2 separate regions of the Homo sapiens genome follow, and region 2 is linked to region 1. Evidence: fine-mapped expression QTL. A gene starts in region 1. The other region holds a variant in brackets. All regions are shown on one strand. Distances are from middle to middle.

Region 1 (9,585 bases):
ATCATTCAGGGCGGGGTCTGTCAGGACTGGCAGCAGAGCGCCTGGGTTTAGCCTCTGACTGGAAGATGGGAGAAGGTCAAAGACTGGGAAGAAGGGAGAAGAAGGGGTATAAGTGAAAGATTCAATTTTGGGGAAAACAGGGTTTCTTTGTTTGGGGGGGGTGCAATTTGACAGTAAGCTACAAAGTAATGTAAACTAATCTTGTAATCCCTTTTCCGTATTGCCAAACTCACCAGTTCTTCCCTGTCACTTTTATAGTGGCTGGACATTTGAGCCAGAAGAAATACAGCACAATATTCATCACTGGGTGTAGCCCTCAAGAGAGAGGACTGAATTTGCAAACACATAATTGGGTTTGGCTGAACAAGTAGCTCTGAAAATGCCCACCAGGAAAAGCACTAAAGGCTTAAAGTACAAGGGGGACTGGTGAAAGCATCCAAGCCATTGCTTTACTGATGTCCCCAAGCAGTGAATTTCTGTCACGGAGTCCCATAGGCACCTCCAGGACCAGAGCCAATTGTGTTTTCCTGGTCAGTGACAAATGACAGGAAATGCAGCAGAAAACATGGCTATGGTGGTAGATGTGCTGGTAGAAAGTGATTTGCCACCTTTGTGAGACCTAAGTGTTCCCTTTGTGCCTTTACAATTCTCCAACATTTCTCTGTTTAAAAAAATCCCAATGTGGAAACAAAACAAAACAAAATGATGTGGTTTCTGTCTCTTGACTGATAGAATTGCTCTACAAAAATCAGAATCTGCATTTGTATTTGTATAAGTTGCTTTTGATCAAGCAAGCAGTACTTTCTCTCACAAACTTTGTAATATTTATGAAAGCTATGAGAGAGTATGCCCAGAGTCATTTAAAAGGCAAAGGCCAAATTTGGGTAATACTCAGTGGAAGTTATTTAGTATATCTATTAGCAGACGCAAATATCATTTGAACAATTCCATAGGCTGCAGAAACTTCAGCACCTACAGCTGTCTCTTGGATATAATAATCTGGTTATTAAATGGGTAATATTGACAATTGATAAAGAGTTCTTACAAATCAATAAAATGATAAGCATCTTAATAGAAAAATGGGCAAGGAATATGAAAAGGCAATTTACATAAAAAGAATTACAATGACCATTAAGTATATAAATAAATGTTCATGTATTTACCTAATGATGCAGGAGTTGCTAACTTAAACAATAACGTATTGTTTTCACCATCGAATTGGAAAATTAGTAAATACAACAGTACTCAACTGTTTGTGAGGGTTCAGGGAAATGGGCACTCTCTGTACCACTGTGTAACATTTAAACTAGTATAAACATTTTGAAGACAGTTTAAACAACAGTATCAAAGGCCCTAAAACATATGTGCTCCTTGATCTAGCAATTCTGCTTATGGGAATTTATCCTAGGGAAATAATGGATAACATGGTAAATGATTTAGGTACAAGAATATTAGACACTAGTGGTAATTCTAGAATTTCTATTTAGGAAAGAATTAGGTGAAAATCTAATTGGAAGAGAGGTAAACCTGAGCTCTGTTGGCATAGCATTTTGCTATGAAAACATTAACTGTCCTTAGCAAAAAAAAAGAGAAGGGCTTGGCTGAGATTGAGGGGATGGTTAAACTCATCCCAAACCATCCTGTGACACCTGCACTTGTTCAATAAATTAATATTTACAATATCAAAACCGAAAACAACTTAAGGGTTCTATATTACAACCCTGGCTAAATACATTTTGATTCTTCCAAAAAGCAGAATACTACCTATTTTTAAAATGTAGCTGAATACTTACAGATGTGAAAAGATGTTCATGATACATTAAGAAAAAAGGATTCTAAAACTATATGTATAACGTAATTCCATTTGAAATATATTTTTGCATAGAAAAATATTTGAAATGAAAGACAATACAACAACATGTTAATGTTAATAGAAGCTATCCCCGGGTTGCATAAATATAAGTTTTAAATTTCCTCTTTTCTTTTTATTTTATTTTTTGCTTATCTAACTTTAATCTTTTCTACAATGGGCAGGTATTGCTTTTGTAATAAGAATGAATAAAAGTTCTAAAGCAAACAGGCAAAAACCTAGTTACTCAAGAATATTTACCCCTTTTAAAAGACAATTTGTCTTCAAACTGGATCTATACTGTATTTTTCACATGTACCAGGGGTCCTTACACAATAATGAAATTAACATGAGATGTGTTGGAAAGCAGAACATTTACTGTGCTCCTCTTAGTGCCTATATCCCTAAACCATAAACACTGTTGCCTACTGCATTTCAAAAGGGAAATTGGATTTTTTAATTTTCAAGAGAATTGGAAACTTTACATTTCCACTAATGAGGGCAAAGGGAAATAAGGCAATATGTTTTAAAGTTCCATTCAGGACAAAACATCTTCAGAAAAGAGATATGTATTTAAAGTATGGGAACTACATTCAAAACAAAATTCTTAGTACTCTTGATTCTTCCTTTGACTATGATCAGGTTCATGATGTAACTCAAGCTAAACTTGCGGTATTTCAATCTATGGTTCGTCTGATTCATTTGCATCTCTCTCAAGCGGCAGAGATGGGATTAGTTAGTAATGAACATAGAGAGTGTTTTGAAAAGGAAATGAGACACTACCATTTTCTATTAATGTTATTACGTTTAAGTGCCAGGATCAAAGCACAACCCTCTACTGTTAGAGGTGAAATTACTGCTACCAATGAGCGCAGCTACCATGGTATGTAAATTGAATATATACTAATTTAAGACCAACAATGAAGCTCAGGGGAAGAAGGAGATAATCAAATTATCCTGTTAAGCCTGATAATTGCAGACTAGATAATGCAATAAAAGAATCTATCAGAAACTTAACTTAATCAGATCATCTACAGCAACTAAATTACCCAGATAATTTAGGTTGTATAGGCCGAGTTCAAATCTCCATAAAATGGTCAGGTATGTCTGAGACATACCTAAGGCACACCATAAAGCTGTATGTTCAAAAGTCAAGAACGTATATAACACAAAAAAATTATACCTATAAATTTGAACTTGCCAAATATCATCACAATAAGACTTTTGAAGTGTTTAAAAGCTTCCTTTTTTACCTTCCTAGAAGTATGGGGCACGGACTACAGCATTTCAAATACTTCAACACAAACTAAAAGTTAGCAGTACTCTAACCCCTGAAACCACAGTTCTGGTTGTCTGGTCTGGAATGAAAATGAGTTATTTGGCGAAATGCAGTTTAAATGGGTGATTCCAGCAGCGAGAGGCAGGGAAGTTGAGAACGCCCTCATAGGCAGTCTTTGCTCTGGCTACAAGAGGAAAAACAACTTTTACTTCAAGTTGTGCGTCTCTTCCAGTTTTACTTCCACAGTCAGTAATAAATCAACCCAGGCACCAAGTTCAAACAGATGAAGCTCACGCCTGACCAGTTAGGGCCAGTTATAGCCCTAAGATCTTTCTTTGCTTAAATCATGTCTTCCTTTTGGTCTTTACAAAAAATTCTGTTTAACTGCTTTCTACCCAATGGCTATTTCACCCCATTTCACCAAGGGGTTTGAGGATTGTCCAAGTATCTTTTCACATTATTTGTTGAATTTTTACCGTTTCATAGAAAAAGATCAATTTCTTTCTTTTTTCTTTTTAAATTATAGATTCAGAGGGTACATGTGCAAGTTTGTTACATGGGTGCATTGCATAAGGTGGGATTTGAGCTTCTAGTGAACACATCACCCAGTGAACGTAGTACCCAATTGGTAGTTTTCCCAACCTTCCCCCCTACTTTTGGAGTCCCCAGTGTCTACTGTTTCCATCTTTATGTCCATATCTATCCACTGCTTAGCTCCCGCTTGTGAGAACATGGTATTTGCTTTTCTGTTCCTGCCTTAATCCACTTAGGAAAATGGCCTCCAGCTGCATCCATCTTGCTGCAAAGAACTGATTTCATTGAAAAAGACCAGTTTCTCAGCCCTTCCTATTTACCTCAGAAATTAAGACATCAAGCCAATCCTTGAAATAAACTTTCTTTTTGTCGTTCAAGCAAAGTCAGAGCAGAAAATGCAGGTGGCAGGGCAAGTAGAGTAATTCTGCGTCTTTCTCAGGGATGTCAAGAGCAGACTCTGGGCATACATCGCTCCGCCTGAGGAAGGATTTAGGGAGCAAGGCTGCCTGGAGGGAACCGGCACAGGGTGCAGGACCCGGAATTCACCCTACACCAGAGCCTAACATGTTAAGAGGTCTAGGACCGTGTAGCAAGTTTTGAAGGCAACCCCACCCCACATCTTTGCATAGTCTGAAACAATTTTGCATCCCCCAACTATTTAGGCAATTGTTCTCATCATTGGATAATCGAATTTCGGAAAATTCTAGACTAATCACTACCTCCAATCACAATATGCTTTGATTGGGCCCGGGAGGGACAGAGAGGGGCTGAGCAAGGCCACAGGAGCACAGGGCCGAGCAAGTCCCTCCACTCACTCAGCAGATGGGGCACCCGGTGCCCGGCGCTCCCAGGCCCGACCCGAACCCACTTACCCTGGGGGGTGGCCTGGGCGCCTGCCGCTAGCCACCGCTGCAGGACCAGGTGCAGCAGGAGGACGGCGGCTCCGCGCGGGGCCAGCATGTTGGCTCTTCCTGCTCCCCGCGAGGCCGGGGGCGACGGCGGCGTTGGCCCCGCCTGGGGGTCCCCGGGCCGTGCGTTGAACCTCGGTCGGCGCCCGGGCCGGCGCCGCAGGTGACCCGTGCTCGGCGTCCGGGCTGCCGTCGGGGGCGCGCTCGCGTCCCCGCCGTGCGGTGCTGGGGAGCTGGCTGCTGGGCTCCGCGGCAGCGGCCGGGCGCTTTATGGTGCGGCCGGGCGGGGGAGGGCCGGGGCGGGGGCGGCCCCCTTGGCGGGATCCCCTGTCCTGGGAAGAGCTGGGCAGCTGGAGCAGCGAGCCGGGGCCGCAGGGAGAAAGGCGCGGGTGTGAGGATGGGAAGGAGCCTGGACGGACCAGGTCCTGGGGTGGGTGTAGACACGGCCCCGACGCGCGAGGGTAGGGGCGAAGATGGGCAGTCGGGGCTGGAGAGAAAGGGGTGCTGAGCAGAGACCACAGGGGAGAAAGGAGCGGGAGGAAAGGGGCGAAAGGGAGGAAGAAAGTGACACTGACCCACTAGCTTTGGGCACCTTCAGTCCCCTACTCCTTGCGCTCCTTTTGTTTTCTAAAAAGAAGAATATCCTTTGGATCGGCTTTGAATGCCCACCTTGGGTTCCCTTGCGAATGAATCCTGAAGTTCTCCAGGAACGCTCTGCCTCCTAAAGTGGCCCAGAGAGCAGCGAGTTTCTTTTATTTCTTCAAGCTTTTCTTGAATACTTGAAAGGCTGAATTTTTTTCTCTATCATTTTGAGACACAGTGAAAGTTTGAAAGTTGTTGTGTTTTTAATGGAGATAAAACACATCTCAAGGAATCCATCCAGACAGAGCCATTTCTAGGCTGGTGAATCTGTGCTTTATGGATAATTCGTTTTCAGTATGGTTTCCAAACGCCCTGCTTGCCCACCTCTATTCCTCTGTCACCAAAGATTCCGTGTGACAGTTTAAAGGTACGGGAGTAGAACTTGAAAGAGATCGGAGGAACGCAAGTAATTCGTCCTTTTCCTGGGCAAAGCTCCCGGAATGATATGGATTAACTAGAGGAAAAAATATTTGATAAACAGTGGCAAAAATTTCTCCTCTGTAACAATCTCGACTAATGGAGAACATCCAGCAAAGTATTGCTATCTCTTTTATGTCTCAAATAATTCCATTTCAAAGTTTAATAAGCCACAAACTGGGAGATTAATGCACCATTTTATCCCCAAACTGTGCTAAAATAACCTGACACCAATTATCACTCAATTTACAGCTAGCGACTTGGAGATTTGTGAGCTATCTGCAGAGCTCTCTAATATGTAAGGTCCAATACAGGTCTATCCAGGGTTCCTTTAATGCCACATTACACTACAGTCACTCTTTGGAATGGGGCATATGTCTACACATGAGAGAACACTGAGAGACACAGAGGATGTGCATAAATATCGACTAATGAGATAAACTAGATTTGGGAACATTCAAATCTCCAGACCATGTTCCCAGGAGTGGCCTGGGTTTGAGAGGAATCTAGGCTCCCAAGCTACGCTTCAAGCAGAACAGCCTTGCCTTTCTATGTTTTTACAGTAGACTTCAGAGATTAAGATTTTCTGTGAAGACAATATTTGGATGCTCAAAATTTTGAAAGCCACTATTCAGTGGTTCTCAGCTGATTGGGTATACCAGAATCTCCTGGGGAATTTAAAAAACAGTGATTAGGTGCCTACAGGGAACAAATGAAACCAAACATCAAAAGCAGCAATATGCTATATCACACCATAGACTACTCTGATACATAAAATAGGGTTACTCCTTAAATGAGTCACCAAGCAAGCCTAGTGGATGCCTGTGAGAGTTCTTGTGTAGTGTGCCACCAGACACTGCCTGTTTCCTCTCAGATCTGGTGCTCACCTTCCACTGCATGCTTGTCAGCAGTCTAGATAAAATGGGAGACTAGAGAGCAATAAGAAGGTAGAAGGTAGACACTAGAGTATTTACTTCTCTGTGACCTGAATGGATGCATCTTCTTTGTGACTCTTGCAGGTGGGGTCCACCATGATTCTAGCTTCTGCCTTCTCACCATTTGCACCCTCCAGCCATGACATTGGAGGTCACTTACTGCAGTTGCTAAAATGTGGATTGCCTCACTCTTCTGTTTGACATCTCAGTTCTTCTACTATATATGTAATCATTTCCCTGTATTAAATTTCTTCTATTTAAAATACCTAGAGTATTTGCTAGGAATCTCCATGGTGAGGACAATGCACCACGTGCTGCTGGAGGTAGATGTGTTGGAGGGCACCCTGCAGTGCCCAGAGTCTGGACGTGTGTTCCCCATCAGCCGCAGGATCCCCAACATGCTGCTGAATGATGAGGAAACAGAGTTGATCATGCCAGGTGCCAGTTTTTCTTTTTATGACCGTGTGTATTTTTGTTGATGTTACCCTGTTTCTGAATTCTGCCATGTGTGTCCCCAACCCTTGACCCAATGACACACCAGACGCACGGTGTTCTTGAGCACAATAGTATTTTTTCTCATTAAAGATTCAAAACCAAAACAAACAAACAACAAAAAAACTAGGAATTTTCGATCCTAGCAAATTCCCAGCAAAATAGCTTGCACATCATGATGGTTAATGTTGAGTGTCAACTTGACTGGATTGAAGGATGTAAAGTATGGCTCCTGTGTGTGTCTGTGAGGGTGCTGCCAAAGGAGATTAACACCTGAGTCAGTGGACTGGGAAAGGCGGACCCACCCTCAATCTGGGTAGGCACCATCTAATCAGCTGCCAGCATGGCTAGAATAAAGCAGGCAGGAGAAGACGGAAGAGCAGACTTGCTGCGTCTTCTGGCCTTGATCTTTTTCTGTGCTGGATGCTTCCTGCCCGCAAACATTAGACTCCAAGTTCTTCAGCTTTTGGACTCTTGGACCTACATTAGTGATTTGCCAGGGGCTGTTGGGCCTTCAGCCACAGACTAAAGGTTGCACTGTCAGCTTCCCTACTTGAGGTGTTGGGACTCAGTCTGGCTTCCTTGCTCCTCAGCTTGCAGACGGCCTATTGTGGGACTTCATCTTGTGATCGTGCGTCAATACTCCTTAATAAACTCCCCTTCCTATCTATCCTGTTAGTTCTGTCCCTCTAGAGAACTCTGACTAATACACACATATAGGCACACAATAAATTTTGGTTGACTACTAAGTGTAACGGAAAAACAAAAGAATCAAATGACTTTCTGTTAGCCTAACAGAATTTACAATCTGGTTTTGCTTTTAGAGGGCTTGCATTTTTATGCAGCCATTCGCTAGGGAGTCTCAGTAAACTTTATGTCCTCAGGTCTACAGTAAATTTGATTATAATAAAATTAATTTAATTAGCTATGAAATATATGATAAAGGAGACAAAAGAGTTTATTTTCATTTCCATGCCACTTCTTATTAAAATATCTATTCATGTACTTACATTGGATTTTATTTCATTTATTTTAATAATGTATTAATTTGTTTGATTTTTTTTCCAGTATCCAACTGTGAGCTCCTTAGGATTATCTCATTTAGTTTTGTAACTCTAATTCCAAGTACAGTACCTAACATTTAGTAGTAAATATATCATTGAATTGACTTTCCTTCTCTTAATACTGTAATCTAGGATAAGAGTTGTGACATATTAGTAATCCATTAATAGGTGCAGTAGGTTACAAAAATGGCCCCAATTCTTTGCTCTTCTGTGTACACATCTTTTATTTTTCTGTGTACACATCTCATGGCTTGGCCACGTAACATGCTTGGCCAACAGGATTTTGGCAAAAGTGCCACAAGCAGAGGCTTAAAAAGTGCTTGTGTTATTGGGCTGGTTTACTCCTGCACCTTTGCCTTTGCCATGATAGCATGCCTGTGCTGGCCTACTGGAGGATGAGAGACATAGAGCAGGGTATAGCCCACCCCTGGCAAAGCCAGCCAAGATCAAGCTGACAGATGAATGAGTTCAGGCAAGATCAGCAGAGCTGTTTAGTTGACTCCAGATGTGTGAGCAGGACACATTTATTTTTGTATACCATTGAGGTTTGGGGGTTGTTTGTTATGTAACAATATTGTAGCAATAGAGAACTGATATACTACATTTTATTTCTTTTCTAATTGTTGTAATACAGAGTATGACTTAATTTTTGATGTTTGACTGCAGACAGTTCTCAAGCCCCACCACTTCCCTTCCTCTCTGCCCCACATCTGAGCAAACTGATAAGAATGCCTAGGTGCTCCTTCCTTGGCACTAGCACAAAGTTCCAACAGTAAGCCCTAGCCCATGTACAGGAACCCTCACCACAGCCCCACTCCTAACCACAATAAGAATCCCAAAGCCATTCTCCTTTCTTGTTCTCTCTAGTTTTCAGACCAGCTTGGAAGCCCATCTTACTCTCCCCCAAAAAAACGTATTATGTGAGCAATAAACCTTTCAAACCCCTTTGCTGCATGTGTGATGGCATTATTGATTTTGATATCCAAACCCAATTTTGAGAGTGGGGATCTATCCTGCTCCTGTGCGGTGACTATAGCACCATTCTTCGCAAGTGGGGGAAATCACCCATACTGTGCACTGATATTTGGCACAACTAAGTAGAAGTTTTATACATATGTGTTAATTGATATAGGTATAATAAAAAAGTTACCATTATTTATGTCAGGTTTTCCACTTGAATTTTTGAAGGAAACAGAAATGGATATAATTATTAACATTAAAAGATGGATAAAGGGGCCAGGCATGGAGGCTCATGCCTATAATCTCAGCACTTAGGATGCCAAGGTGGGAGAATCACTTGAGCCAGGAGCTGGAGACCAACCTGGGCAACATAGTGAGACCTCATCTCTATAAAAATAAAAATTAAAAAATCAGGCCAGGCGCAGTAGCTCACACCTATAATCTCAGCACTTTGGGAGGCCGAGGCCGGTGGATCACAAGGTCAGGAGTTCGAGACCAGCCTGGC
Region 2 (9,585 bases), 35 kb before region 1:
TGCACCAGGGAACATTCTTGACGCACATCATTTAGGGCAGTTGTCAGGATACAGTCCCACCTTCCTCTCGGAAGAGGAGAGGGACATCTGATGTCAGGCTCTGTTGCTGATGTGCCTTTCCTTGTACTGTGATACCAATAATAACACGGCCCCTGTTTTCTGCATGTCACCCTTGGGCCAGCACTGTGCCGGGAGCTTTACCTACATTATCTTGATTTTTCACCATAACCTGTGCGATGCATTTATTTATCTCCTCTTTGCAGATGAAGAAGTTGAGATGTGAAGAGACTGGGAAATATGTTTAAGTTCACTTAGCTAGTACAGTCAGGCCTCTGTATCCGCGGTTCCGTATCCGCAGATTCAACCAACTGAGGATTGAAAAGATTTGAAAAAGAACAATAAAAAATAACACCAAAAAAATACAAATAAGAAACCAATGCAGTATAATAACTATTTACCTAGCATTTACATTGTATTAGGTATTAAGTAATCTAGAGAGGATTTTTAAAGCATATAGGAGGACAGGTATAGGTTATATGCAGATATTACATCATTTTATATAAGGGACTTGAGTATTTGAGGATTTTGGTATCCTGGGGGCAGAGGGGTATCCTGGGACCAATACCCTGGGACACTGAGGGATGACTATATGTACTTTGCAGCAAGGACACAGAGCATAATGAAAGAGATGCACACTTTGGGAGGATGAGGCAGGTGGATCACTTGAGGCCAGGAGTTCGAGACCAGCCTGGCCAACATGGTGAAACTCTGTCTCTACTAAAAATACAAAAATTAGCCAGCATGGTGGCACACACCTGTAATCCCAGGTACGTGGGAGTCTGAGGCATGAGAATTGCTTGAACCCAGGAGGTGGAGGTTGCAGTGAGCCGAGATCACGCCAGCCTGGGTGACAGAGCAAGACTCCATCTCAAAAAAAAAAAAAAAGAGAGAGAGAGCTGTGGCTTCATAGGAGCTGTCCTTGAGTAAGGTTTGGGTCAGGAACTGGTTTTCTGCAGGGCAACCTCTGATCCAGGTATCAGGAGAGAAATTGCATCTTTTTTTGCTTTCTCTTTTAGAATCCTTTCCCTCTCATCCTTGTCCTGGCTGCCTTTGTAAGAATTCCCTATGGAGACAAAAGGGTTTAGAACCTTGGGTTGCAGGTGCCGCTAGGGCTGAGTGACACACGTCTGTTTTTGGTGATGTTCTTCCAGAATCTGATCAGTTGATCCAGCCTTGAGTCTTAATGTGGGACTCCATCGTGTTGAGCTAGGAGGGTTCACAAAACTCACTTCCACAGAACAATTCCACTTAAATAAGGAAAACTGAATTAAAAAAATTTCAAGGACCAGGAAATAATAGCAATCCCTCAGCAAACTGACAGCCTTCTATTTTGGGATGATGGTGAAGTTTTCCTGAGCTGAAAGAATATAAAAATAAAAGAGCTAATGTCTATTGAGTGCTATGTATATAACAGAAACCATAATGAGCACTTTCCATGGATCAACTCAATCTTCACGATGGTCCTATGAGCTAGATCTATTGTCATCCTCATTTTACAGATGAGAAAATTGAGGCAAAAGTATTAGGTAATTTGCCTAAGGTTAGCTGGCATGTAAGAGAAGGAGCTGAAATTTATATCTAGCTGTCTTATTCCAGAGCCCATCTGTGAAGCATGATGCTATATTACCTCTCCTGAAATAGATCTCACTTGCTGGAGTGCCTAGTAACCTATTCTGACACCGTTATACCCTATACAGAACTTTCAGGGAGAATTTTCATGGTAATTCTGACCAGAGGCAGGGCTATTATCCCACCAGCAGCTCAGTCCACCCAGAAAGATCCCAAGGAATGGAGCAGCAGGAAGTTCTGAAATTTAAAACCCTCTCCGGGCTGGGCACAGTGGCTCACGCCTGTAATCCCAGCACTTTGGGAGGCCGAGGCGGGCAGATCACAAGGTCAGGAGATCGAGACCATCCTGGCTAACATGGTGAAACCCCGTCTCTACTGAAAATACAAAAAAATTAGCCAGGCATGGTAGCGGGCGCCTGTAGTCCCAGCTACTTGGGAGGCTGAGGCAGAAGAATGGCATAAACCTGGGAATCGGAGCTTGCAGTGAGCCGAGATTGCACCACTGTACTCCAGCCTGGGTGATAGAGTGAGACTCCGCCTCAAAAAAAAAAACAAACCAAAAACCCTCTCCGGATGTTTGCATCTGTCTCTCTGCAGTTGGGAGACATGCCATACCTGTCCTGATTGGTGTCACAGGAGTCCCCAACCAGATCATTATCCACATCAGACTGCAAAGAGAACAGCACATGTTATTTATTCCTGGGCCTGCATGTACCGAATGTTCCAGAGAAGGCAGACCTCACCCATCATCATTGGATTTGGGGAATTATTTCTCTGGAACCGGGGTGGTGCAAAACTGCAAAAGGACAACACCATATTGGTGTAGGCACAATGCTGAATTTTCAAAAAAGCCTTCTAAAATATCAAGCTACATGGATGGGCTGCCCACACACCAGATGAGCTGATTGGAAAGGGGCGCTGGGGTAGCATGGTGGCAGGTGGAGGCATGGAACTCTGGCACGGGTCACAGGGAGCCAGCCATAGGCATGGGGAGAAGGCAGGTTGATTTTGCTTTGCTTCTGCAATTTGCAATTTGGCCAAAATCATGAGTGAGTCACAGAGGGCAACCATGACTCCCCTCTCTCAGGGCTTTAAAAATAAATGACACATCATACCCAATTATCCAGACAGGGAGGAGGAGTGAGAAGGGAGATGCAACACATCCCTGGCTGAACTTAATCTGAAATGTCCATACATAGGCTGTGTAGGGGTTTAGGGACTAAAGGGACACAAGGCTCCCAATGGTTAATTTCCATGCTCCGTTTTCCTTTCTGCAGGAAAAATACTTGTATTGAGCATCATGAAGTTCGTGTTACTAACCTCACAGGCAATCGACAGCCTGGGAGATAGTCCCTAGGGCTTCAGATCTTGTGTGGTGTTCATCCCACCATCTTCAGGCCCACAGTGTGTCATTTTTCCACCTCTGCTTTGTTAGGTAAGTGGCAACAGCTAAGAGGCTCTGCTGTTTTTCTAGACACCCGTCTTAAATGAGTCTTTGCATAGAGGAATTCAGCCTGGAGTTTGAATTCCCCAGTATCCTACTAACCTGGTTAGGGTTGCTGACATCAGGACAACTGTCACAGGCATCCCCCACACCATCACCATCCTTGTCCCGTTGGTCACGATTGGGAAATTTTGGGCAGTTGTCCAGAATGTTTTTTATTCCTGTGAGAAAGAAATGCTACCTTGAGTCAGGGGAATGTCACTGACTTCTTCTAGGTGCTGGAGAGATCAGGCGCATGGTGAGTCACTTCTGCCTGGGCCAGTGTCACACAGAGACTACCCTTTTCTGCAGTTATCCAGAGGTAGCTTCAAAGGACGGATTCTGGGAGACTTAAAAATGAACAGCTCTCAGAGGTATTTATCGACTGAATTCTAATTTGTCCAAGATGTCAAGGGCTATGATAGCAACCACGAGGAGGGGATCATGATGGCTGTATGGCTGACCCTGGAGAGGGAGGATCTCGTGGGTATCTGAGCTATGACTGAGACCCTAGGGCTCTAGGCAGTGTTGTGCTGGAGCTGGGTCCATTGTGTCCCTCTCTTTTCAGTTTTGTGTTTGATGATGTCACATTGGTAGCTTGAAATCAGCAATGAGGACAATGCGGAGTTACATCATGGAAACTGGAAAATGCTACCAACTAGGGCTTTCTGTGATTTGCTTACCAGCATATACCACTGGAAATGGGTCATCAGTTAGGCTTGCAGAAGGTGAGGTCATGTTTTAGGGGGGTGTGCATGTTCTGGAGTGGTGTATGTGTGTGTGTGTGTGTGTGTGTGTGTGTGTATGTGTGTGTTGGGGCAGGTGGTATTTCAAAAAGGTTTTTCCTTCAAGGGCCCACAATGGGATGTGTAGCCTGTGATGCATAGTCTGTGACCCTGCTCAATGCCTTCTCATTCAGTTCTCCACTTCTGGGTCTCTCACATGTAGAAAGGATAGTGGAGAGTGAGGACAGGTAGAAATGGGAAGGGAGATACCCCATAAAGACACACTCTGACAAGACACTGCTTGAAGGGGTCATACAAAGTTTCTGGCAATGATACAGAGTCCTGGAAACATCCAGAGCCATTAGGTAGTGGAGTGGGCTGTGGGGTCTCCTTCCATAGACACAAGTCCACCTTGGGTCTTCCAGATGCAGGCCACAATGAGCCACCCACAGCTGGAAGGCTCCGAATCAGTCATTCTATTCCTACTCTCTCAGAGAACAATGGAACAAGGTCAACTGAATTCCAAATAAAAGACAAAAGCAAGATAAATCTACCATCTCCATCCATGTCATCATCACAGGCATCTCCTCTTCCATCCCCATCGGTGTCTTTCTGGTCGTTATTTAAGACACTCAGGCAGTTATCACAGGCATCCCCAAAGATATCTTTATCGCTGTTCCTTTGGTCCACATTATGAATCAGGACACAGTTATCCTAAAAGATGAAAGGACAGAACATCACTCAGACTTTTACTAAATCCACTTCCTCCATTGTTGTGAAGCATCAGCACTCTGGTGGCCCAAGTTTGTCAGTTTTATATTTCAAACATCTGTGAATCTTATAGGGTAAAAAGCTGCAGTGCTGTGGAATGCAGGCATGGAAACTAACATTTGGGATGATTCATATACATAGTTGACATCACAGGCTTTCTCCCATCATCCCTGGTACGTGGCAATTCACAGGCCCTCCCAGCGAAGCAGGTACCTGCTCATTCAGGATCCCATCTCCGTCAGCATCCTCGTCACAAGCGTCGCCAATGCCATCTCTGTCTGCATCTTCTTGGCCAGAATTTGGCACATATTTGCAGTTGTCCTTAGGGGGAAAATGCAGTTCCGAGTGACATCCTACATTTGTGTTAAGCCAGTAACTGTTTCTGACCTCAAGACACTGTGGCTTTATTGTTGGTGGCTGTTTCACTTCCTCTGAGATGCAGCTACTTTACAAGTACAATTTTAAATTAGATCCACAGAACCTCTCCCCATAGAAGATGTGACTTTGGAAAGCCACAGTGCATGTGTGCCTACTGCCACCCCACACCCCTTACCTTTTTACAGTTCCTGGCAGAGCATGGCAGTTCTTCGTCGGGGTAACTGTCGATGTCCACATCCTTTCCACAGATATAGCCATCTCCAGCCCAACCGACTCCACACTGTAAAGGGAAAGCCCATCAGAGGCCTGGGAAGCTGAGCCTGGCAGG[A/G]AGCTGGTGGCTGACAAGGGCCTCTCTGCTCCTTTGCTCAATCCCAGGGGGAGGGCCCAGAGTCACTCAGCCTTGTTGGGTGGGGCTTAGAAACTATTTAATTGCACTTGAATAGTGTAATGGTTCACTATTCAAAGATATAAAGGGAGACTCAGAGAGAAAACTCTCCCTCCCACTCCCACTTCCAGGAACAGGCAGAGCAGCAGAAGGGAGATGGGAGGAGGGGACCCAGAAGGTCACAGGGAACTGGAAACGCAGAGGGAGAGAAAGCTGACCTGGGACGGGAGGTAAAGGAAGGAAGAGGGAGAGAGTCTGAGGAGCAGAGTCTGGGCCAAGGGAAATCAGACTTATGTGAGCACAGGTTAAATTTCCTGGCCTCACCACCCAAAAGCTTTCAGACCAGTGACTTCCTCAGCCACAGCCTGCTTATTCTCAATCATCTGTGCTCTCCCTCTGCAACCAGGATTTAGGAGGCAGAACTCCAGAGAGACCCTCCCGGGCTCCTGGTTCCTGCTCACTTGCCCCAGCAGGGCCTTTGGAAGGCCTGGAAGGCTGATCCACGAGGCTGATCCTTGACTCACTTTAATGAGGAAAAAATGTCCTCTAGGAACAAATACATTTTTAATGAGCTATTTTCTGGCAGATTCAATTATTTTAGTAGTCACGCCAAGTTTATTAATCCTTTACCATCTGTCGTTGTGCCTTATTACAAATTCAAAAACATATTAAGAGCCCCATCACCCATCATCCCAGGGGAGTTGTCAATTTGTTCACAGAAAATGGGGATTTCAACAGAGATATACACTTGTTTCTCAATGACTGCTTTTTGGTAATAAACAAGCCCAACCATGAGGAATTCAGGAAATTGCTGGGGTTATTCCCCCTCTGATACACCACATTCTTCCATCTGACCTTGTTACAGAATATCTGTATTGCCAAGGAGGGCTGACTTCATTATATTTATTTATTAACTCATTTTTGACTCTTATTTTTCCTATTTGAAAAGTGGTAGGCTCATTGTGGAAAATTGTGTATGCATAAAGATAAAGAAGCATAACTTTGAGATAAAGATGGAAAAGGGCTCCGAGAATCCATCTTGCTACTCAGGGGTGATCACTGTGAACCAGTGACCCCAGAGTCTGACGGGCCACCGGCCGAGGGCCTGGCATCCCAGGAAGTGCAGAGGAGGGGGGCAGCTGAAGTCTGCTGATTTTTCAGTGCCTAGGATCCCCAGGACTTTGGATCCTTGGATTTGGGAATGGATGGCAGGCTGAGGACTCTGGATCCTTGGACTTGGGAATGGATGGCAGGCTGAGGACTCTGGATCCTTGGATTTGGGAATGGATGGCAGGCTGAGGACTCTGGATCCTTGGATTTGGGAATGGATGGCAGGAGCATGCCCTCTCCTTCACATAGGGCCCACTACAAGCTCAGCATGGGACCCATGTCAGGCCCTGCTGTGACTGCTCTACTCTCTTCCCAGCCTCCCCTCCCCAGACCAGCTCCGTGGCTGGAGAATGCACAGGAAGCGTGACCATTCATGGAGCTGTCCCTGATTGGAGTGGAGGTAGACATACAGCATGGCGCCGTCTGGCCCTGCCAGTCACCTGCCAAAGACGGAAGGTTTCTCCCGGAGGGACTATGACAGTCCCCACCTCTACACGATGGCCCACCCCCAACAGGAGCGTCAAGGCAGACAGACTCTGGAAGTTGTAAGGATGAGGACAGTTAGAGATGACAGCAGGTATGTTGTCATTATACAGGCAGGTAGATGGGGCAGAAGAAGGAAAGGGGAGAAGAATGTTCCTTCACCTCCCTGCTGCTGGCTTCTGGGCCTTTCCATAGAAGGTGCTTGGGAGCTGGGGCTTCACCGGAGGCTCTGGCATCCAGGTACCCAAGTGGACAGGGTTGCCCCCCAGCCAAGAGGGAGAGAAAAGGCAGCTGATGGTTAGATGGATGTCAGGCTGCTCCCCACAAACTCGGTGGACCCTGTTCCTATTACACTCCATGCTCATTTAATTGCAATGCTTTCATTTTGGAGTACTTTTACCCTGAAGCACATAGAAACTGGAGAGAGGTGGTGTTAAAAATGGAAGAGGAAAAATGATAGAGGAAGTCAAAAAACAACTTACCACACATGTCACATCCCCCTGCCTCTCTTCAATGCACTGGGCATTCACACTGCAAGGGTTCAGCTCTGGGTTTCTGCAGTTTCTTTCCGCTTTGCATCCCCTTATCTGATCACCAGTATACCCCGGCTTACAAGGCCCACAGCGGTAAGATCCCTGCAAGGAACAAAGATCAGGTGATGAGCTGAAAGCTGTGGGCAAAGGTACAGTTTGAGCAAAGGTACAGTTATTGTGTATATTTTCACAGGTACTCATTGCTGGCAGGAATCAGGCATCAGATCCATGCCTTCTTCTTTGCTTACATGTAAGATCATGTGAATGTTGATGAAAACACCATCAGACTGGAGGCTGCGTCCGGCCACTCAGACAAAGAAGGAATAGAAGTGAAGGAAGAAGGCTGGACTGTGAACCAATGACACTGAGTTGCCCGCGCCACCGTGGAGGGCATAGGGGACAGGTCAAAAGTTCCAGTGAAGTCCTGGGAGGTGGTGTGAGAAGTTTACTCTGGGGACAGGGAGATGATCTGCTTAAAAAGCAAGTTAATTTTTCTTATTGCTGTTCCTTTGGCTCTTTTACAATGGAATGACAAAGGAATGGGTGCACAGAGAAATGCTGGTGGCCTGCATTGAGAATTTCTGATGAGGTAGGCTGAGAAACTGACAAATGAGCTGTCAGCTCCGCTGCAATGACACTTCAGGGGCCAGGTTTTTTTAGCTTTTATATATATAATATATATTATCACACTGCACACTATATATGTAATAAATATTATACAATATGTTTAAAAAATGAAAATTAAAATTTTCATCTTTATTGAGGTATAATTGACAAAACTGAATATATTTAAAGTGTGCAGTGTGATGATGTGATATACGTATACATTGTGAAATGATTACCACAGTCAGTTAAGTAACACATCCATCAACTGACATAGTTACCTTCCTTTTTTTCTTTTTCAGTGAGAACACTTAAGATCTGCTCTCTTAGCAGATTTCATATATATAATATAGTATTATTAACTACAGTCACCATGCTGTACATTAGATCTTTTTCATCTTATGCAGTTTTATTGGCATAACATTTACAGGTCGTAAAAGACATCCATTTGAAGTATATATATTGTTTAATGATTTAAGTCACTCACAACCTCTTAGTTGCCAAATCCAATGCATGCTTTCCAATGACTTGTCTCGATCTTTCAGCCTCCCTGGCTGTGCTATCAGTTCGCTCCTTTTTCTGGCTTCTGCTCTTTTTCCTTGGCCTAGTCCTTCGTTTTTGGGGTTTCCTGGAGTTCTATTTACTGTCTACTTTCCTTCTCTCTAGGTGGCTCAGTTATTACCTTTACACCAAGATCTCGCAAATCTATTTGCAGACTACTTTGTCCTGGTAAAAGCTGAGAAGCAATAAATCCCCATCTATTCCTAAGCAATATAGCATTGCGGAGAAGAACTCAGGCTCTGTAGCCAACCTGGAAGATGTGTGACCTTAGTCTAAATACGTAACATTTCTTTTTTTTCTTTTTGGAGACAGGGTCTCCCTCTGTCACCCAGGTTAGAGTGCAGTGGCGATCACAGCTCACTGTAGCCTCAAACTACTCTTGTACCCAAATGATCCTTCGGCCTCAGCCTCCTGAGGAGCTGGGACTATAGGCATGCTCCACCATGCCTGGACTTAATGATGTAATATTTCTGTCCCTCAGTTTCTTCAATTGTAAAATGGGGATAATAATAATCCCTGTTTATGAGGTTGTTGTGAGGATTAAAATAAGTGACTTGATAAATGTAAAGTGTTTTTACTTACAAGGAAACAAGGAACCTAGAGGCTGGATAACTTTCAAATAGTCATACACGTAATCAGTAGTTCTTTTCTTGATAGTCAACTCTGGTACATCTCTCATCTTGGACACAGTTTGACAGGAACTTTCAGAAATAAAACCCATATCTGAATACTTAAGTTATAGGCATCCCTAAGTGCTAAGCACTTTAATTTAATACAATGAAAAGTTTTGAAAAGTTTTTTTTTTTTTTTTTTTTTGAGAGGGAGTCTTGCTCTGTCGCCCAGGCTGGAGTGCAGTGGTGCGATCTCGGCTCACTGCAAGCTCCGCCTGCCGGGTTCATGTCATTCTCCTGCTTCAGCCTCCAG

The links. PIP is the estimated chance that this variant, and not a neighbour inherited with it, causes the effect.
Region 2: its variant is fine-mapped to the expression of THBS4 in blood mononuclear cells (TOPMed, PIP above 0.99). The same link has a PIP of 0.9 or more in monocytes and whole blood.

The regions. Positions count from the first base shown.
Region 1 is chr5:80,030,575-80,040,159 of GRCh38, reverse strand. THBS4 (thrombospondin 4) reads right to left here and starts at 4,812. Exons shown (of 22, transcript NM_003248.6): 1 at 4,535-4,812; 2 at 1-83. The coding sequence starts at 4,622. It also overlaps the pseudogene TRMT112P2.
Region 2 is chr5:80,065,987-80,075,571 of GRCh38, reverse strand. THBS4 (thrombospondin 4) reads right to left here. Exons shown (of 22, transcript NM_003248.6): 10 at 7,447-7,599; 11 at 5,162-5,266; 12 at 4,822-4,929; 13 at 4,392-4,551; 14 at 3,176-3,294; 15 at 2,245-2,297. It overlaps THBS4-AS1 (THBS4 antisense RNA 1), which reads left to right. Exons shown (of 8, transcript NR_109930.1): 4 at 2,907-3,064; 5 at 3,349-3,486; 6 at 3,681-3,840; 7 at 6,798-7,058; 8 at 7,691-9,223. Among named protein-coding and RNA genes, the nearest start is that of THBS4-AS1, 13 kb to the left of the region's middle. RefSeq lists an enhancer at 4,184-5,383. The variant A/G (reference allele first, on the strand shown) is at 5,315.